Linked DNA regions of Homo sapiens. The protein of the gene in region 1 interacts with the protein of each later gene in a biochemical or structural test. Each region holds a gene or a part of one and is shown on either strand. Other genes may lie near its edges. The genes, in order: ATF7 and OCIAD1.

Region 1 (11,227 bases):
CCATCCTGGCTAACACGGTGAAACCCCATCTCTACTAAAAATAAAAAAAATCAGCCAGGCATGGTGGCGTGCATCTGTAGTCCCACCTAGTTGGGAAGCTGAGGCAGGAGAATCGCTTGAACCCAGGAGGCAGAGATTGCAGTGAGCCAAAATAGTGCCACTGCACTCCAGCCTGGGTGATAGAGCAAGACTCTGTCTAAAAAAATACCAAAAAAACAAATCCTGTTGATGGGCTAAAGAGGATAAGGACTGTTTATCAGTATATAATCTATATACGGTCAGTTTTCCACTTAGTCCCTGCAAGAACTCTGATACATAGTTAATCCATTAAACTACTTATTCTTTTTTTTTCTCCTGCCTCAGCCTCCCGAGTAGCTGGGACTACAGGCGGGCACCACCACGCCCAGCTCATTTTTGTATTTTTAGTAGAGACGGGGTTTCACCATGTTCCCCAGGCTAGTCTCCAATTCTTGGCTTCATGTGATCTGCCCACCTCTGTCTCCCAAAGTGCTAGGATTACAGGTGTGAGCCACCGCACCCGGCCTTACATATTCATTATAGCAAAGATGTATTTAGTTCCTGCTGTGTGGTATAGATATTATGTAAGTACCTGACACATGATGAATAAGACACTGTCACTACCTCTGAGAGAATCATAGGGTCATATAAACCTGTGGATGAGGTAAGGATAGATATCCCAGTTAAAAAGCCCCTAAACTGGGAGCTTCCTAAGGATAGGGTTCCCGTTTTCTTCTCTGTGTACCCATGCCTGGTACATGGATGATGCTCAGTAAAATGTTTGATGAATATATGCTGTGAAAACACAAAGAATAAAACAGTTAATGTACTGAGGGTAACAAAGATGGCTTCACAGAGGACGCAATATTTGAATCTTTTTTTTTTTTTTTTTGAGACGGAGTCTCGCTCTGTTGCCCAGGCTGGAGTGCAGTGGCACAATCTCGGCTCACTGCAAGCTCTGCCTCCCGGGTTCACACCATTCTCCTGCCTCAGTCTCCCAAGTAGCTGGGACAACAGGCGCCCGCCACCATGCCCAGCTAATTTTTTGGTTTTTTTTTTTTTTGAGTAGAGACGGGGTTTCACCATGTTAGCCAGGGTAGTCTCGATCTCCTGACCTCCTGATCCGCCCAGCTTGGCCTCTGAAAGTGCTGGGATTACAGGCGTGAGCCACTGCGCCCGGCCATATTTGAATCTTAAAAGAAGACTCAGGCATTCATCAGGATGTCAGAAATACAACTGACTATGGAACGTTTGCCTTTTTTCCACATATTTCTGTTTAAGCAGCCATAGAGGCTATCCGATGTTTAATAAAACTCCTTGACTTGCTGAGTGTGATGACTCATACCTGTAATCCCGGCAATTTGGGAGTCTGAAGCAGGAGGATGGCTTGAGGCCAGCAGTTGAAGGCTGCTGTGAGCTGTGATTGTGCCATGGCACCTCCAGCCTGGGTGACAGAGTGAGACCCTCTAAAAAAATTTTAAAAACATTTGACTAATGAGCAACATGGAGTTACCATTGTATGTAGCTCAGGTAGTTGTGTTTAGTAGTAAAATGTTAGTGTCACTTTAGGTGGAGTGGCATAACTTATAATGTTTTATAATCATTAATGCCTAGCTAATTTTTAGTCAGGAGGGTCTTAAGATTTCTTTGTAGTTTTACATGTTAACTGAACCCGGGCCAGGGACTGGCCATTCATAATATCATTTAATTATAGCTTGATATCTATCAGACTTACCTGTGGTACAACTACATGGTAAAGGAACATTAAAAATAATGGAATAGGCCTGCCACAGTGGCTCACGCCTATAATCCCAGCACTTTGGGAGGCCAAGGCAGGCCAATCACTTGAGGTCAGGAGTTTGAGACCAGCCTAGCTAACGTGGCAAAACCCCATCTCTACTAAAAATTCAAAAATTAGCCAGGTGTGGCAGTGTGCACCTGTAGTCCCAGCTACTCGGAAGGCTGAGGCACGAGAATCACTTGAACCTGGATGGCAGAGGTTGCAATGAGCTGAGATTGCACCACTGCACTCCAGCCTGGGCAACAGAGCAAGACTCAGTCTTAGGAAAAAAAATAAATAAATAAAATAATGGAATAATTCAGTTCCTGTGAGAATTAATCAAAGAGGATGGCTAAAAAGAGATCTATTTTAAATCATCTTTAAAGAAATGAAGGCCAGGCGCAGTGGCTCATGCCTATAATCCCAGCACTTTGAGAGGCCAAGGCAGGAGGATCACTTGAGACCCTATCTCTTAAAAACAAGAAAGAATAGAAGTAATGAATAATAATAAGAGTTGGTAATGAACTATGCAAAGACCTAGAAACCAGACAGTGTAATTAACATGTTGGAGATTCATTTTATTGGAATAGATAGGTTAATTTTGGCCTAGTTCTTCCCTTCTTACAACTTCCCATTTCCTAGCCCATTTATGACTTAGAAGCCAGGATTCTGGGAAGTTTTCCCCAAAAAAAAGATGGGTTTCATTTCCCTTTTGGGCTCCTTTAGAATTATGGCAAAAGGTAGTCCTGCCTCTTTCCCCATTCTGTTTTCTAACCAATTGCTCTCTGCTCTTTGCCCTCCTTCCTGGCAGAAAGCCCCAAGGAAAGCTCAGAGCCAACGGGTTCTCCAGCCCCTGTGATTCAGCACAGCTCAGCAACAGCCCCTAGCAATGGCCTCAGTGTTCGCTCTGCAGCTGAAGCTGTGGCCACCTCGGTCCTCACTCAGATGGCCAGCCAAAGGACAGAACTGAGCATGCCGATACAATCGCATGTAATCATGACCCCACAGTCCCAGTCTGCGGGCAGATGATGCCTCCTCTGGTGGAGAGGTCCTCAGCCAGAGCTCGCCCGCCCAAGAGCCAAGAGAGATGTCATCTTATCCCCTCCCATCTGCCTTGGACATGGCAATATGGGTGGGGGGAATTGTGTGTTGTGAGTAATGGACAGATATGGGGCTTTTTAGCCATGTGGTCATGTACGTTTGACACCTGTGCTGGGGGCCTCCCAGCCCCGGAGCCTCATAGATCATCCCCCAGGGTGGGGTTTCTGATGCATCCACAGCCAAAGGCCTTTCCAGATGGTCCGAACAATCACCCCTGCCCCATGCACGTGTATCTGTCTCTTTTAACACTAACCCTTGGCACTTCTAGGTTTGGGGTTTCTCAGTTCCCTCTCTTCCCACTAAGCCGTGGCTGTTACCTTTTTGTTCCTTACCAGCATGCCACTTCCTGCCAGATAGAGGGAGGCTAGATTTGATGACATATTACCCGCTGACCCAGCCCCAGCCACCCCATGGACTCAGGACTCAGGTCTCCCATAGCTGCTTATTTACCCGTTTCCTTTTTCCTCTTCCTTAATTCTAGTTAAAACATTCACTTACGGAGAATGTAAGGTTACCTTTGATGTATGAAGTAGCAGTATTTTCCAGTTTTTCCATAAGCTTTATTCCTTCTCTCTACCTGCCACCAAAAAGAAAGAAACCCTCAAGAGTTCTAATTCTTTTTCATCTATTTGCAGAGCTATTTGGGTACCTCATTTTGTCCCTTGACTTTAGTGTAGTGGTGGGGTCTTTCCCACCACCCCACTAAGCCTTGGCAACCTCATTTTGTGGCCTTATTATTAAAGATTGCTTGGTAGTGAAAAGGGAAGGGCCCAGAATCTGACTGGCTGATTCTGTCTCCTCCCCTCCCTCCTTCTTTAGTTTAACCATCAGGGCAGACAGGAACAAAGTATTTCAAAGCTTGTTCCATCAAGTTAGGGATTAATCGATTCCTTTATGTTTTATAAGAGTTTACCGGCCAAAGCATATTGTCATCTTTGGTCATTTTTCTGCTCCTGCTTCTCTCTCTTCATTCCCCTATCAACATTACCGCCCCTGTCTCTCTTCTGTAACTACTTCAGACTCAGCCCTCCTGGAGGCTGTCATGTAGGGGACTCTCGAGTTCCTTTGTTCTACCCCATCTCTCCCCCTCACACATCTGTCTGCTTTTCTGAGCTAGAGTCTTCTGTTCACAAGTGCCCATCACCGTCTGGACTATCTTCTTTCTCTTTCACCAGGTTCCTAGCTTAGCCACTAGGTCTTCCAGGTCCTCCAGAGTTTCTTCAACCCATTTCTTCTCTCTTCTCTTTACATGCAGTGCTCCAGGATCTTGAAGCGTCATAGCCAAGATGCTGAGTGGGTTTACTTGAGTATAAGATTGAAAGGAGGGAGGAAGAGGAGAGGGAAAGTGCAGAACTGGTCCCAGCAAAGGACCCCAGGTTCTGGCCTGGGAAATTGGTGACTATTGCTCTCAACCATTCTTACTTTGAAGAGTTGGGTTGCAGAGGGAGCAATTCATCTCTCTTGTCCCTCTTCCACGTTAAGGCTTCTCATCTCCCCTTGGCTCTGAACTATGCAGTTTCTACCAGGACCATAGGAAGCAATTCAGAGCCAGAGGCCTGTGGATAGATAGGTCAGCTTTAATTGCCTTTCCGTATGAAACCCTTCCAGTTGTCCCAGAGCCACTTTCTGCCATCTGTGCAAGCCAAGAATGTCCTTCTCTCCATCTTTCCTACCTCCATCTTAAACATACATACAAAATAACTGCCAGCTTCCTTTCTTATTTTGTCTCCAAAATTGACTGTCACAGGGGAATGAGAAAATGTTCTAAGCTACAAGATTCCCGTTTCCTTAAAGTGATATCCTGTCCTAGTGAACCAGTCAGGTAACAGGTTCTGCTGCATTTGTTTTAAATTTCCCCTCCTGCTTTTCAGAGCTGGTGCTGAACAGGCCACACCCCTAAAGACAAAGGAGAGAAAACACGGTTTTCTCATCCTCTACCATCAGGTACCCAACAGGAATAGGCCCTGAAGTGATTCAGACTAGCAAATGTTATGGCAGATGGTCAGGACGCAGGTTACCACATCCAGGGACTTCACTTTTGCCTTTAAAAATTCACAGCCGTAACTTGTGCTCAGGACTTCCCCTTTAGCTGGCTGCTCCCTGGGATTTTCTCCTGCTTTAGAGTTTTGTTTCATTTTTTTATTGTCTTGATTTCCCAGTAGCAGCCTTGCCCTAAAGCTTGACTGAGTTTATGGCTCCTAAGGAGCTTTCCTAAGACTCTTGACTATTTTTCTTCCCCCTTCAGTCAAGTGTTTTTACAGTTAAGAATTAATTTGTAACTGCATACATGCCCTGCCAGTCTGTCCCTGTGTTGGGTGGCTAATTTATGTAGCGGGTCTTTTTTATTTCTTAGCCCCCATGACTAATTATCTAGTCCTAACTTCATTTTTATCAGTGGGAAGATGTGTACGGGACCTCAGTGAGGAGCACTGCCAGAACCACAGTAACAAAATGGCACTGAAATAAGGAAGCAGCAGGTCAGAACCCCCTAGATAGTTCTTGAGTTGGTTCTCAGTCTCACTAAGGAGGCAGAATAATTGCTGCCCTGAAACTTCTCTGATAGTCAAAGGTAACTTCACTTACCTTGTTATTGCTACCAGCCATGTGGTCACTCTCCCCAAATCTTTGTCTTCCAGATCCATCTGGACCAGAACCAAACATCATGGAAGGTGTCACTTGGCCCTTCCTAAAGTCCATGGCGTTTCTAGAGGCCTAAGGGAGGACACTTTCAGAAAGGAGCTGAGTGTATGGTGGGTGTCCTGAATTCGTTCATGTGAATACAGGACTCAGGCTTCCCACCCCACTCCAATGTGAGTGCTCGATACACAAGCACTCTAGCTAGCTGCCACGTACCCAAGGCCACAGAGGGAGGGGACAGAACCAGGTCTTCTGGTCTGCTCACTTTCTGCCCCATTCCCCTAACAGAAAGTTTGCTTAGAGTTGAAAAGTCTAAGAAAGCCTCCCACAATACTAGAGAGGCCAACAAAAAAAAAGTCATGCCCCCTTTACTTACTCTTTTGCTGCTGGTTATGCATCTCAAATCTGACTTCCTTAGCCTTCACCTCCCTCCTTGGCCCTAAGCATTAGACCATGTACTCTAAGTAGTGGTTAAAGAGGGACTGAGCAAACTGAACCTCCTCTCGCTCACTTCTCTATCCCTGTTCTGTTGGTTTTGGCTCCTTTCTTGATTCACTGCCCTCTAGCACCACCCATCCTGGTAGATGGAGTGCTTAACCCCAACCGTGCCCTATGTACAGCCTGAACCACCAAACAGACACCAAAAAAATTCTTCCTGTGGTTTCTGGGGCTCCCCTGCTCCACACTGAGAGGCTCCTTAAAGGTGCTAGCCCCTGATACAGCTATCCCCGCCAGTTTTCTCCTTTTTTCATAACTTCCTTCCCATCCCCAAATCATTAATTTTTCATTAATATTGTACATTATATACACAGGAAGGAAATACATTATTTTTTTTAAATTTCATAACCAGCCTGTTTAGATTCCAGTCTTCCTAGCTATATCACATATGCCTTGTTGATATGCTCTTTCTGCTTTCTTTAGACTTAATGTTTGACGGGGGTGGGGGTGTCTGGAAGAACAGGAAAGGTGGGGATCCTAAGGCAGATTAAAGGACTCCCTCCACCCCACTACAGCCTCCCATAACTCTAGTCATCCCTCTCATAGTACAGGACTGATTTCTCTGTGTCTGTTTGTACACACAAATGTGCATACAGACATAAATTCCCCCACCCCATACCAAGGTGGTTACCTAGCAGGAATGAGCGTAGGTGGCTGCTGGCCACCATTACCACCGTCTGCATCAGCTGTGTTGTCTCTCTTTGGGGTAAAGTCCTACCCCAGAATGAGAAAAGGCTGGGGAGAGTAGGGCAGGTTAAAGGAGCTTATGTCCTCTGTAGATGTAGGTTTGTATCATAGCTACTAGGGTTTATTTTTTTAATGGGGGGCTAATAGCACAGAGTTATCTCACCAGCAGTAGCTACTGGTGAGTGATGTTTTAGCTGTAAGAAGTGGCTATGAGCAATAGTTTCACTGACTTTACCTTAGGGCAGTGCCACAGTAATCTGGGAACTTGTTAGAAATACACATTCTCAGGCCCCATCCCAGACTTATTGAATCACAGACTCTGGGGGCAGGGTTTAAAAGCACTCCAAGTGATTCTAATGCACACTAAAGGTTGAGAACCATTTCTTAGGGATAAGCTGGGAAATTTTTACAGGTGTGGAGGATATTTCAAATACATCTTTTGCCTTTGCACTAACATGCTTTCATTTCTTTCAGTCTCTTCCTCCATTCCCTTTAAAGTCTTCCCCATCATATCACTGATCTCAAAAGCTAGATTTGTCTTCATTTTAGTCGTATCCCTAAAACCATGCATTGGTCTGGACAGGAGTTGTCCCATATTCCCTTGCAGACTGGTCACTCCATGTTCTCTGTTACAGTAAGGACCAGCCAAGCTTCAGCTGTCCCATTCCTCCCCCTACAACACACACACCTTTCAGGCAGGGAGGAGATGAGCTTCCAGCCCCAAGAGTGGAGGCTGCCACATCCTAACATAGTATCTATTGAAAAGGAAGCAGTGTGTATCTATGATTATATCTCTGTTCATCTATATATTTTTGACATGTAGCAACACCTCTCCATCTTATCAAGGAACTCAACTCGGTCTGGGTCTCCCCAGTGCCCAGTGGTGGCCTTTGACAGGTAGGAGGATGCAGTGCTGCAGGCTATTTTGTTTTTTGTTACAAAACTGTCTTTTCCCTTTTCCCCTCCACCTGATTCAGCATGATCCCTGTGAGCTGGTTCTCACAATCTCCTGGGACTGGGCTGAGGCAGGGGCTTCGCTCTATTCTCCCTAACCATACTGTCTTCCTTTCCCCCTTGCCACTTAGCAGTTATCCCCCCAGCTATGCCTTCTCCCTCCCTCCCTTGCCCTGGCATATATTGTGCCTTATTTATGCTGCAAATATAACATTAAACTATCAAGTGAACCACTGTTATGTCTGATGCTTCACTCCTCTATCCACAGCCCCCATTGTCCCCTTTTCTGGGAGGTCACTGGCCTTTCATGTCTGTCATCTTCATCACTCCCCCATTTCTTAGGACAGAAGGAACAGGGATTTTTGTCTCTAGTTTTTATACATGGGAGATACAGCCTAGAGAAAGTGGATGATTTCTATAAATTACAAAGTATGACAGAAGGCCCAGGGCAGAGCTCCTGTGGACTGCCTTGGAGACAAGGGCCCTTGGCATCCTGGCAGCAAGTACTCACAGGAAACTTAGTATGTGCTTTATGTGGATGGCGGGTGGGAGAGTTGCTGATGGCAAATGGCCTTTTACTTTTCAGTGTTTTGTTGCCAACCCCCACCCAACCATTAAAAAGTGGCTGTTGTGACCAGGGAGCACACACACAGACAAAGACGGAAAGTATAGCTTTCTATGGTAAGGAGGAGGCTGGTCTGGAAATGAGGGGTAGAGTTTACTTAGAAGCAGGTAAGAAAACCGGGCATGGTGGCTCATGCCTGTAATCCCAGCACTTTGGGAGGCTGAGGCGGGTTGATCACCTGAGGTCAGGAGTTTGAGACCAGCCTGGCCAACATGGAGAAACCCCGTCTCTACTAAAAATACAAAAATTAGCCAGGTGTTGGTGGCGGGCGCCTGTAATCCCAGCTACTCAGGAGGCTGAGGCAGGAGAATCACTTGAACCTGGGAGGCAGAGGTTGCAGTAAGCTAAGATCGTGCCGTTGCACTCCAGCCTGGGCAACAAGAGTGAAACTCCATCTCAAAAAAAGCAGGTAAGAGTTCACAAGAAAAACAGGTAATGCTCAGAGACTGTGGGAATCAGGAAGAGGTGTAGGGAAATCACAGATAATTTATTGCATCTGTATATTCCTTTATAAATAACATCACAAATGAGAACAATGAGCCAGGCTGAAGAATTTGACAAAAGAGATAGCAGGTGTCTCTGGAGTTTCCCAGTAGGAGAGAAATGACTTAAGAAGCTATCTGTGGCTGGTGTTTGGTAGACACTTGACACAAATAGCCTGTGCCTCCTGAGGAGAGCAGGAAAGGCAGTGGTGGTCTTCACTGTGTTGTGGCCAGGAGCACATGGGTGTCCAGAGAAGGGTAAGAAAGGAAATTGCTGAAAGCCAAATACCAAAGCCCAGATTATGAGGTTTTGGAGGTTCCCACCACTGAAGCTGCACTCTGAAAACTGGGCAGTTTACAAAATTAGAGGAATCAACCCATTCCAACTTCAAAGGAGACCAGTTACCTCCATCCTGGACACAGGAAGCCAGCTAAACCAGCCTCTTTCTGAATGCAGCTCAGCCCAGAGCCACTTGTAATTGATGTTTAGAGAAATACTAGAAGCAGCAGGATGGTAAACATGGAATGGCTGCCCTATGCTACGTGGAATGGTAGATTGCTTTACTGTTCACCTAGTGATAACAGGAGTAGTCACTTCATTTTATTGATGATAAATTGAGGTTTAGCCAAGTCACACAGTGAAGTGCAAGAGCTAGGATTACAACTGAGTTCTGTCTGGCCCAGAACCAGCTCTGCAGTGTCCCATCCACCCTCACACCGCTGCTCCTCTGGACCTCTGTCACACAGGAGCAGACAAGGATCATTCTGGGATGCAGCAGCTACTGCCCACAGAAAAGCCATCTCCCCGTGGCCTTGATACTCCCTTTTAAGAAGTGGTAAACTGGCCGGGTGCAATGGCTCATGCCTGTAATCCCAAAACTTTGGGAGTCCCAGGCGGGCGGATCACCTGAGGTCGGGAGTTCAAGACCAGCCTGACCAACATGGAGAAACCCCATCTCTACTAAAAATACAAAACTAGCCAGGCGCGGTGGTGCATGCCTGTAATCCCAGCTACTCGGGAGGTTGAGGCAGGAGAATCACTTGAACCTGGGAGGCAGATGTTGTGGTGAGCCGAGATCAAGCCATTGCACTCCAGCCTGGGCAACAAGAGCAAAACTCCGTCTCAAAAAAAAAAAAAAGATAAAACTACAAGATACCATGATGATGAATGTCAGGTTTTGTGGTTGGGACCAACCATGAGACAAAGCTTACGAAAAGGTTTACCCTGGCTTAGTCCGCATTAACAGAAATATGGTATCTGGAGCATCCAGATCCAAACCTGCTCTAATCTACGTGTCTAAAGGATAAGTTGGTTCCTAGATGCCTTGCCTTAAAGAGTGGGGTGCTTCCCCTTGAGCAAAAAAGACTATGGAGTGGGCCAGGTGCGGTGGCTCACGCCTGTAATCCCAACACTTTGGGATGCCAAGGTGGGTGGATTGCTTGAGGTCAGGAGTTCAAGACCAGCCTGGCCAACATGGTGAAACCCCATCTCTACTAAAAATACAAAAATTAGCCGGGCATAGTGGTGTGTGCCTGTAATCCCAGCTACTTGGGAGGCTGAGGCAGGAGAATCGCCTGAACCCGGGAGGCAGAGGGGTTGCGGTGAGCCGAGATCGCACCACTGCACTCCAGCCTGGGTGACAGAGCCAGACTCCATCGTAAAAAAAAAAAAAAAAAAGCTGGAGTGTAAGAATGAACTCTCTCTTCAAAAATATGAAGAGCTTTTACACATGAAAGAGATGAGATGTTCTGTTGAGACTTAATGGAGCAAACTAAGACCCCGAGTAGAAGTCACAGGAAGCCCAAAGCCCCCTCGGCACAAGGATAAATATGTCCGAAGACTGTCTGAGGAGATGGTAAGTTCCCCGACTGGGGCACATGAGGCAATCACAGCTAACGTTTTGAGGATACCTGTTCTATGCAAGCTGTTTTATTGAATGGATTACAAAAAGTATGTTAAGTAATGCACACCCTAGGAAGGCGTTCCTTGTAAAATGGGCCCATGTTTCAGGTGAGGAAACTGAAGCTCAGAGCGGGAGACAGCTTGCTCAAGCAGAGGCCAAGGCCTTTACGTCATGGCTCTTCCTCAGCACAAGCTAGAGACCCACACTGGTGGGGATGCTCCAAAAGGGACTCGAGGATTAGAAGGAACCTGCACCATATGGCTTTGAAGGCCTCTCCCTGAGGATTAGTGATTCTGATTTTTCTTAAGACAGGATTCTAGGCTACTCTATATGAGAGCCAGGGCCAGGCAGAGGCTGTGGAGACCAGAGTCGGGGTCAGAATGATAGTCCAGCCCCACAGTAGCCTGCTCCTGTCCTTCTGGGACTCCCTGGAGACTGGACCCTAGCACCTCCACTCAGCCTCACCCTCCTCACTTCCTCTGCAGAGGTCTATTCTAGGAAAAGGAAATGGCCGGAGCTGGCAATGAGGAGCTGTGACCAC
Region 2 (11,398 bases), on another chromosome or scaffold:
TATCCAAAATGCTAAATAAATTCAAATTTTAAATATTTACCTTTACTAATTAATCCTTGAGTAATCAACATACTTGTTGCAGCCAAAGGCACAGCTATAGGAAGAAAAAGACCTTGTTAACATCAACAAAAGTAAAAGATTTTGTCTAAAGTTCATTAGATAAATGAATAGCAGTAAAACCATCTAGGAATTATATTGCATAACTAAGACCTTTAAAAAAGACTGTTCCATTTTTAAAAGCTGTACTGTATACATAGTGGAAAAATTAAAGGAGCATTTTAAATTTAAGAAAACATCACAAAATATTAAACAATATAATTCATGAACCATCTAGGCTTAGGTTCCAAATAGCCAGCTGTTCATCAACAGCATCAACTAAGACAACACAGTAAAAGTGACTCAAAATTACTTCTGAAGTAAGAGAAGGGGAAAAAGTTAATGAAGGAGAGGTAAGAAACAAGTTACAAGTAAGAACCACTACTGAGTAATGACTAAATTCTGTGCATCATGCTAAGCGCCTTATGTGCATTATCTCATTTATTATACTTTTTATCATATTTCTATAAGGTAGATAATGTTATTACCACCCTTTTAAAGATAAGGAAACTGAAGCTTAGAGATGTTAAGTAATTTGCTCAAGGCCAAACAACTAGTTGAATGGTTGGTTACAGATTCTAATAAAATCTGTCTGATACCAGATCTCAAGCTTTTAAGCTCTAGTATACCATCTAAACCAAAATACAAAACATATTTGACCGTAATCATACGGTGGCTGGGGCAAAAATTAAAAAGCACATATTTTAAACACTTATGTTCTTTCTTCTAAACTAGTGAACTCCTTAAACTATATGAAAATATTACATCTATATATATATATGCCTAAAACCGAGAGTGAAAAATCCAAAACTCATAATCTCAAAGGGGGCTATAACTTAAAAACAGCTATGAATCACTGTTCTTTACACCAGCACTGTCTAACAGAATTTTTTATGATAATGGAAGTTGGTCTTTGAGTGACCAACCCTGTGATCAATTTGGTCTTGGTACTTGACTGGTAAACAGTTCCCCCCATTGATATGCGTAATTGGCTCACTGTGCCCAAACTGTTTGTACAAATACAGTTCATGCCAAACATCTGCTTTCATTCTAGGAGTCTGGAATTTTGGTACCTGTTAGGCAGAGGGTGAATAAGTGACCAGCCCCCAATAAAAACTGTGGGCACTGAGTCTCTAATGAGTTCCCCGGGTAGATACAACTTCACACATTGTTATGACTAGCTGTTGGAGAAATTTACACTCCCTGGGAAGAGAACTCTTGGGACCTGGTTTCCGCCGGACTTCACCCCATGCTCCCTTTCCTTTTATGATTTTGCTTTATATCCTTTCACTGCAAGTTATTTTAAAGTTAAATTGCTACATGTGACTACTGGCTGCCACACTGGACAGTGCTGTTCCAGACCTGAGGTTGGCAAACACGTTCTATGAAGAGCCAGATGGTAAATATTTTGGGTTTTGTGGGCCAATCTCTGTCCCAGTTACTCAATTGCCGTTTTAAAGCAAAAGCACCGAAAGACAATCCAAAAACACATGAACGTAGCTGTGTTCCAACAAAACTTTATTTTTAGATGCAAACATATGAATTTCATGTAATTTCACACGTAATGAAATATTCTTTTCCTTTGATTTCTTAACCATTTTATCTTATTTTATGTTTTTAGACAAAGTCTCACTCTATCACCAAGGCTGGAATGCAGTGGTACAATCTCATCTCACTGCAGCCTCAACCTGCCGGCTCAGATGATCCTCCTGCTTCAGCCTCCCAAGTGGTTGGGACTACAGGCATGCACCGCCATGCCTGGCTAATTTTTTGTCTTTTTTCTTTTTTTTTTTTTTTTTTGTAGAGATGAGGTTTCGCCAAGTTGCCCAGGCTGGTCTCGATCTCCTTGGTTCAAGTAATCAGCCCACCTCAGCCTCCCAAAGTGCTGGGATTACAGGCGTGAGCCACTGCACCCAGCCTCTTAACCATTTAAAAATGTAAAAACAATTCTTAGCTCATGCATACAAAAACAGATTTGGTCCATGGGCTAGTTTGTTCAACTCTGGTCTAAACCATATATGGACAATTTAAGAACCAAAGTAATTAAGACATTTGAATTATTACAGATTTCATGATTAAAATCCATCACTTTGGAATAGGGCATTAACTTTGCCATCACACACAAATTGCACAAACGCTAAGGTCTGAATTCATGCTATCCTACTTACTAACAGATTTTACCTTTGCTGGAAATATGGTTTCTTTAATGTTGGCTAGTTAGAATGCCTTCATGCATTATCATTTATCATTTAAGGTTTTGCAAAGGACAAATCCCTTTTAATTACAGCACCAGTACAATTTGCAATCATTTTTCTCCAGCTTGACTCAAGGATTGCAACATGAAGCACTGAAGAATCATATAAGAATAAAAGGCAATGAGTTAGCTGGCCATTTCTACAATGGATAATGCTTTCCCCATTTAATGCAGAGTAATAGTCTGTTCGAGGAGATTCTAGTACTAGTTCTGCCATTCACCACAATGTCTTTGCATAGCTTCTTCTCATGCTATAAAGGAATAATGGATTAGACCTAAGGTCTCATTCCAACTCAGGTATTCTACTTTATGTCACAGAAAAAGACAATGGTAAGACTGAAAGAGGCTTCAGAGATTATCTAGTCCTCATTCCAATCTGAGTACACTAATATCCAGAAAAGACAAGTCATTTGCTCAAAGCAACACAGCTGGTTAGTTTGTGGTAATGCTGAGATCAGAACCCAAGTCTCCTGACTCCCTAGTCAGTGGCCTTTTCCACTACAGTATGTAATATCTATTTTGTTAAATAATCTGTCTCTATAGGCAAATCAGTAATACTGCTGACCAAAACCTAGTGCACATTATTACCACAGTCCCAAACTATATTCAATATATACAAGAATCCCTACAATTATTTGAACTCTTCTCCCCTCACAGTAACAAAAAGCTACTCTATATTCCTAACTGTAGTCAATAAAAATTTTTATTTCATTAATCATAATAACACTAATAGCTATTTAATAAAGATAGCCAACACTTAATTAAATTGCATTAATCCCTATAATAATTTCATGAGCTAGGCAGTTATCCCCATTTTATAGATAAGAAAAGTATAGCACAGACCTCAGGAACTTGTCCAAAATCTCACAGCTACTGTGTGTGGAGCTGGGATTTGAATCCAGCCAATCAGGCCTCAGAGTCCATACTCTTTTTTTTTTTTTTTTGAGATGAAGTCTCGCTTTGTCACCCAGGCTGGAGTGCAATGTCACAATCCTGACTCAATGCAACCTCTGCCTCCCGAGTTCAAGCCATTCTCCTGCCTCAGCCTCCCAAGAAGCTGGGACTACAGGCATGTGCCACCACACCTGGCTAATTTTTGTATTTTTAGTAGAGACAGGGTTTCACCATGTTAGCCAGGCTGGTCTTGAACTCTTGACCTCAAGTGATCCACCCACCTCGGCCTCTCAAAATGCTGGGATTACAGGTGTGAGCCACCATGCCTGGCCCATACTCTTATCACTCTTATACTGTATCATTTGAAAACTAGTAGTACACATATATGAAATATTATTCATAGACTCCAGCTGATACAAATATGAACTGATACATCTTTTTAGTAATTCTGGAGTTTGAGAACTATTTTAACATGAATATGCAATAAACTGACCCTATATGCACAGGGTCTTCACTACCTGTGTGTTTGGGCACAGACATAGTGATTTTAGGTCAGTGCATAGGGTCACGATTTTAAGCACCTAGAAATAAGATGCCTTCATAGTTATATTTCAGATTAATGGAATGTAGGTCAGTATAGAAACATAGTTATCTTAAGGAAAGAGAATGGTCCCTAGATCAACAAGTCTAATTTTAGAAGAGGATAAGTATTTTAACAGACCTAAAAAATGTATAAAAAATTACCTTAGTAAGTGCTTTTTTATAAATTCGTAAATGCTTTTATCACCTTTTTCTAATCCAAGGTGATACTCTCCAAAGTAACAGATGCCATTATTTGTTTACATAAATGTCACATACAGCATAGACTATCTAATTCGAAAGTACAAATGTTAAAGTACAAAATTTCCTATGTATGATTATCATCCTTCTGATAATTATACGTTGAACTTCCTATCACCTGGTTACAACCAAGCTTCTACATTTCAATGTTTGATGCTATAATATGCAACAACACCTTGGTTATCTGTTTTGAGAGTGAAATGCTACCTATTAATACAGTAATTTTTTGGCTGCTGTAATTTCTCAGTAATGTAGATATGGTATAAAATTAACAAGCTGTCTTTCAGCCTGTCCTTATCACATGCTTTTTGTCTTTTTTTTTTTTTTTGAGATGGAGTCTCGCTCTGTCGCCCAGGCTGGAGTGCAGTGGCACGATCTTGGCTTGCTGCAACCTCTGCCTCCCGGGTTCAAGCGATTCTCCTGTCTCAGCCTCTCGAGTAGCTGGAATTACAGGCACCTGCCACCATGCTCAGCTAATTTTTGTATTCTTAGTAGAGACGGGGTTTCACCATATAGGTCAGGCTGGTCTCGAACTCCTGACCTCAGGTGATCTGCCTGCCTCAGCCTCCCAAAGTGCTGGGATTACAGGTGTGAGCCACCAAGCCCAGCCGCTTTTTGTCTTTTCAACCTGTGATTTATCTGTTTTAATGCACAGAAATCACTTAGCTTTGTACTGTTCATATACCACATGTCCCACTATTAAGAGTCTGGTATACACGGGCATCCTGACATTGTTCACTACCCTTTAATGTACTTTTGGCATAAACCTGTCACAGCTATTTAGATTGTTAAACACCTGCAGCAGCATACATTTATCAGCCAGAAATAAATCTGGACACCTTAGCATCTATTTAACCGTTAGCCCAACACTACAATAATCCCAAATCCCCTCTATCACACTTGCCTTTTTCTTAATCCTGTGTCATCAAGACTTAAAAATAGATCATTTTATCCTATCTACTCTATATAATCTTCAAAGATTTAAAAAAAAAAAAAAAAAAAAGAACTGTTGCTGGAGTATACAGCCAAGTTCTCTAAGAAATTCTTCCCATTCTGGCCAGGCACAGTGGCTCATGCTTGTAATCCCAGAACTTTGTGAGGCCGAGGTGGGCAGATCACAAGGTCAGGAGCTCGAGACCAGCCTGGCCAACATGGTGAAACTCCTTCTCTACCAAAAATACAAAAATTAGCTGAGCATGGTGGCAGGCGCCTATAAGCCCAGCTACTTGGGAAGCTGAGGCAGGAGAATTGCTTGAACCCAGGAGGCAGGGGTTGCAGTGAGCCAAGACTGTGCCATTGCATTCCAGCCTGGGCAACAAGAGTGAAACCCAGTCACAAAAAAAAGAACACCGAAAAAAGAAAAAAAAACAAAAAAAAAAAAACGATGGCTTACGTCTGTAATCCCAGCACTTTGGGAGGCCGAGGCAGGTGGATCACAAGGTCAGGAGATGGAGACCATCCTGGTTAACACGGTGAAACCCCATCTCTAGTAAAAATACAAAAAAAAATAGCCAGGTATGGTGGCAGGCGCCTGTAATCCCAGCTACTCGGGAGGCTGAGGCAGGAGAATGGTATGAACCCAGGAGGCGGAGCTTGCAGTGAGCCAAGATTGCACCACCGTACTCCAGCCTGGGGGATAGAGCGAGACTCCGTCTCAAAAAAAAAGAAAGAAATTATTCCCATTCTAATGAGCCATGAAAATTTTATAGAAGCCCTTACTTTATGATGACTATGCATCTATAACAATTATTCTCAACTCGTTCCAGTTATTCTGCTCCCAGTTGAGAATAACTGTTTTAGATGCATAGTCATCATAAATTTAAAATGGACATCATCACCTAATTCTTATTCAGGTTCTTTCTAGCTTGAAATACCTGCAAGTCTCTGAATATTGGTGGATAAAATGACAAAGATTCTATCAGAGCTCCTCTATCTTCCTAACTGCTCTTGGTCTTTGTTGATTCTTTCACTATCACTTGTTCCCTTATCCATGGGTACTATCCAAACTTTATCCTTTATTCTATCAATCCTAAGTATTAATCACAGGGCAGAAACTATTATCAGTTTTATGCTTTTATCTCTACACTTAATTTATTGGCGAATTCACCAACACAACTCCACAATAAACTAATTTTTCATGTATGCTTTTGTTTCTATCTGTAGTTGCTTAGAAATCTTCGACAATCGAATGTTGCACCATGAACTCAAAACGTCTGAACTAAACTCATCTTCAAACAAGAACTCCTTCTAAATGAACCTTTTATTCAGAGGTATCATTGAGTCTCCTAAGCTGGTTATCTTAAAGCTATTACCTCCCTCTTACCATTCCTTCATTCCCCCTTAGTCGAACTTTTTAAAAAATCCTTTTATTTGTCCTTTAAAAAGTCTTTCGTTGCCAGCTCATCTTTTCCAGTCCAAATGACACACTAATCAACTATATCTCATCGTTGACTACATATATATGCCTAAGTTACTGCCAAAAGCTCAAAACAGATTTTACCAAGTACAACTTCTCACCCTTCTACCCATCTTGCACACTGTTAACTAACCTTCCTTAAAAAAAACCTTACATATCACCCCCCTCTGCTCAAGAACCTAAACGATATAATGGATCAAACCTTTAACTCATTACTATGTTTTACGTTCTATCCTCAATGAAAGACCTCTGTTCCAATCAATTCAGGCTCACCGCTCCAGCAGAGATGAAGTTATTGCAAACTCTGCCTTTGTTCACTACTCCTTTCTTCCAAATGCTACTCCACCTTTCCTCTTCACTTATCTACTTATTAACTATTAATTCTTTTGTTGTTGTTGTTGGGGGATTAGGGACAGGGTCTCACTATGTTGCCAAGGCTGGTCTCAAACTCCTGGTCTCAGGCGATCCTCCTGCCTCAACCACCCAATGTGCTGGGGCCAGGTTCAGTGGCTCATGCTTGAAATTCCACCATTTGGGGAGGCCAAGGCAGGCAGATCGCTTGAACTCAGGGGTTCAAGATTAGCCTGGGCAACATGGCAAAACCTAGTATCTACAAAAATAAAAAACAAAACAAAACCAAGGTGCTGGGATTACAGGTGTGAGCCACCATACCTGGCCTACAGTACTATTATAAAGTTGTTAAAGTATTGTTTGCTTAACAAATAAAGGTCTTTTTCCAACTCAGGTATTCCACCTTATGTTACAGAAAAACACAACTGTAAAATTGTAAGAGGCTTCAGTTTTTACCAAATTGAAATTTGGTAAAATTTTGAGAAAATTTTGAGTTTTAAAATCTCAAAAGTTATTCAAATTTTTCAATTTCAGTAAGTCAATTCTAATTAATTTATCTCTTTAAAAAGTCTTCTGCAGTTACACACTTAATCTCTAAGTGTTTCATGTATTAGCTTTGTCTCACCACATATAAAACTACTTCAGGGCCAGGCGCAGTGGCTCACACCTGTAATCCCAGCACTTTCGGAGGCCAAGGCAGGTGAATCAACTGAGGTCAGGAGTTCGAGATCAGCCTGGCCAACATAGTGAAACCCAGTCTCTACTGAAAATACAAAAATTAGCCGGGCATGGTGGCGCACGCCTGTAGTCCCAGATACTCAGGACACTGTGGCAGGAGAATCACTTGAACCCAGGAGAAGGATGTTGACGTGAGCAGAGATCACACCACTGCACTCCAGCCTGGGGAAGAGAGTGAGACTCCGTCTCAAAAACAAAAACAAACAAACAAAAAAGAAAATTAATTCAGGACAAAGTCTGTCTTTCATAAAACTTATCTTCCCAACAGGTACCTTGCACATTTTAAGCATACATATCAGGCTGACTGATGAAAACATACATCCTCCTTAATGGCTTAAGTTGCCCTTTTTTTCTTTTCTTTGAGACAGGGTCTGGCTCTGTCACCCAGGCTGGAATGCAGTGATGTGATCATAGCTCACTGCAGCAGCCTCTATGTACCCAGCTCAAGGGATCCTCCTACCTCAGCCTCAGCCTCCCAAATGGTTGCGATTACAGCTACGTATCACCACACCCAGCTAATTTCTTTCATTTTTGGTAGAGACAAGGCCCCTCTATGTTGCCCACGCTGGTCTTGAACTTCTGGGCTCAAGCAATCCTCCTGCCTCAGCCTCCCAAAGTGCTGCAATTATAGCCATGAGGCACCGTGCCAAGTTGCCTTTTTTAAAAAAAAATTTGCCAGGCATGGTGGCTCACGCCTATAATCCCAGCACTTTGGGAGGCCAAGGCAGATCACCTAAGGTCAGGAGTTCAAGACCAGCCTGGCCAACATGGTGAAATCCCGCTTCTACTAGAAATAGAAAAATTTGCTGGGCATGGTTGCACATGCCTGTAATCCCAGCTACTCAGGAGGCTGAGGCAGGAGAATCGCTTGAACCCAGGAGGCAGAAGTTGCAGTGAGCTGAGATCACACCATTGTACTCCAGCCTGGGCAACAAGAGCGAAGCTCCATCTCAAAAAAACAAAAACAAAAACAAAAAAAAATTCATCCTCCTTTTTACCTGAAAGGACTACAGTTTCCAAGTAAAGCAATACCAATTCTTTGTTAAATAGTGAGAGTATATTTTGTATACTGCTTCCAACAATCTCTGTATTTAAAAAATACAATCTTGATATATATATATACACAAATATATATATATTTCTTTAATCAGAAATCAAGAGCTGGTAGTATAACAACATTTCACAATGATAAAATGGGAACTAATCTGCTATTATATAATGGTTAAAAGCATTAAGAGTAAAATCTGTTTCAGACAGACCTGTTTTCAACTCCAAACATCGTAATTTATCACCTGTGTAACACTAAGTGTTGCCATTTAACATCTCTAAACCTCAATTCCTTCACCTGTAAAGTGAGGGTAATAATAGTTATCAACCTTATTGGGTTGTTTTTATATAATCTATGTACACACAGTAAATGCTAACTATTACTATTATCAACAAAATTACCTCATGGTTTTGTTAAAAATCTGGAAATAATTACTTTAAAATGTGTGCAATTCCTTTATCTCCTTAATCTCTTTTAACAACAACCACACTATGCAAAAAGTTTGCCAATTTGTTCTATACGGAGTTATTATAATTTCAGGTTCAAATTCAAGTCAAAATTTCAGGTACAAATTTTGGATCAAATTATATTAATTAGAAAATTGAACTCACATCTGAACCAGAAGCTTTCATCATTGCATTCTGCGAAGACTCTCCTTTCTTCCTCTGTTGGAATGTAATCAGGCCCTATGTCTTTTTACCAGGGAAAATCAGAAAACATTAAATTATCCATAATAAAACTAGGTCTGAAAAATTATCTTAGCCTAAACATTAACAAGAGGCACCCATTTTTTAAACTCAAATAATAAAACAACTGGCTTATGCACTTTTTTTGTTTTTTGAGACAGTGTTTCACTCTTGTTGCCCAGGCTGGAGTGCAATGGCGCGATCTCGGCTCACTGCAACCTCCACCTCCCGGGGTTCAAGCGATTCTCCTGCCTCAGCCTTCCGAGTAGCTGGGATTACAGGCACCCATCACCACGCCAGGCTAATTTTTTGTATTTTAGTAGATACGGGGTTTCACCATGTTAGCCAGGCTAGTCTCGAACTCCTGACCTCAGGTGTTCCACCCATCTCAGCCTCCCAAAGTGCTGGGATTACAGGCATGAGCCACCGAGCCAGGCCACTTATACACTTTCAACAAACTTTGACTTCAAATAGAATTAATGCTACTATCTGCTAGTCAGGACTGGCTACCTAATGTGCTGGGCCCAGTGCAAAATAAAAACGTGGGACTCCTTATCCAAATGATTATGAATTTCAAGATAACAAGACTAGAACATGAAACCAAGTATGGGGCGCTGTCTGCACATGCCCATGAAGCCAGCCCACCTGCCACTGTTACTCAAGGCAGTGAAAATTCCTTTACATAGGAAGTGCTTCTAATTATAAATACTTAATAGATAGTTACGGGGAATTGGTCTTGGAACCTCTGCATTCGGCTCTCGAAAATCAGCCCTCCCATTCATCTTTCCTGTATCAAAAACATTACATATTAAGTATTAGAAACTATCACTAGATAGGTCAAAGTAAATCAAGACGTATGATATAGTAAAACTACTAGTCTACACAGCAATCAATCAACAAATATTTATTAAACACTACTATATCTTACGTACTCCACATGTAAATAGCTAGATGAAAAAGTAACAGACCTACTGATTAATTTGGAACTCACTATTCAGGTTAAGTCCCTTAATTGAAAAAGCATATGCGTTTTATAAGTTTATAATTTTTTTTACTATCAAGATATCAATAAAATAACAGACATATTTTTTCCTCCTGGAAGTGGGTTCTTTCACATCCTATGTTTTGGTCGTTTCTCGAATCTATGCCCAATGATTAGGATAATTCCCCAAAATAGAAGAGAAAAAAAATTTCAAGTCATTTCTGAGCTTCCATATTAAAAAATGAAATAATCATCAGAAACATTCAACCTCTCCCACAAAGGAGCACTCCAAAATTATGGAATAACAAAGACGACATATCCTTCTCCCTGTGAGGTAAAACTAACAGCAAATTCTGTATCTCCAAATTTCCTTCCACCCCAAGAATATAAGAAAAAAATGCATAAAATTCCAAGAATATACATTTTTTATTTGGTTCTTTTTTTAAAAACTCATATATTGGGACTCAGACCAACAGATCAAGTAACCGTATTTTACAGAACGTTTACGTGGGATCATGATTATTCTCATTTTAAAAACAATTTGCATGGAAACAGGAAATGGCATACACAATGAGGACAGCAACTGAGCCCTTCCATAATTCATTCAGTCAATAAGCCATGAAGGCCTACTACATGCCAACCCCTTAATTAGAGAAAAGAAATAAAAAAGGTCAGCTGAATTCATGGATGGATGGAGCCTGCTGAATAAACTACCTTTACCCTACAACCGTATGAGAAAAAATGAAACCCTCTTATTTCCCATAACGGCATCCTTCCTAGAAACACCAGGAAGACTGTCAGGGCTGACACGGCGCTTAAGACAATACCATTTTAAGTTCTTTACACAAAACAACGCTGGATTAAAGCCTAAGCGGCCTACAACCGCTGATTACCGCACTCCATCCTCCACCCAGTGTCCGTCTCCCACCTGCCGTTACAGACTGAGCAGCAACCCCACACGCATCCGTGACCACGAACTTCCCCAGCTCACACCCCCAGAAGCACTCCGTCGCCTCCCGCAGTCACCGGCACTCAGGAGGCCGAGACCCGAGCGCGATCTGTCCACCCTCACAGGCAGGAAAATGGCGGAAGG

Evidence for each region.
Region 2: the proteins of ATF7 (region 1) and OCIAD1 form a complex in vitro, tested with the Homo sapiens proteins (one study listed by BioGRID).

The regions. Positions count from the first base shown.
Region 1 is NC_000012.12:53,508,737-53,519,963, reverse strand, and holds the end of ATF7 (cyclic AMP-dependent transcription factor ATF-7), read left to right. Parts: intron 1-2,355; exon of another isoform or gene 2,356-2,609; coding exon 2,610-2,827; 3' UTR 2,828-7,910; downstream 7,911-11,227. UniProt on the Homo sapiens protein: Stress-responsive chromatin regulator that plays a role in various biological processes including innate immunological memory, adipocyte differentiation or telomerase regulation.
Region 2 is NC_000004.12:48,831,332-48,842,729, reverse strand, and holds part of OCIAD1 (OCIA domain-containing protein 1), read right to left. Parts: exon of another isoform or gene 11,209-11,398; coding exon of another isoform or gene 11,199-11,208; intron 10,111-11,198; coding exon of another isoform or gene 10,106-10,110; coding exon 10,048-10,105; intron 9,330-10,047; coding exon 9,249-9,329; intron 95-9,248; coding exon 41-94; intron 1-40. UniProt on the Homo sapiens protein: Maintains stem cell potency. Increases STAT3 phosphorylation and controls ERK phosphorylation. May act as a scaffold, increasing STAT3 recruitment onto endosomes. Involved in integrin-mediated cancer cell adhesion and colony formation in ovarian cancer.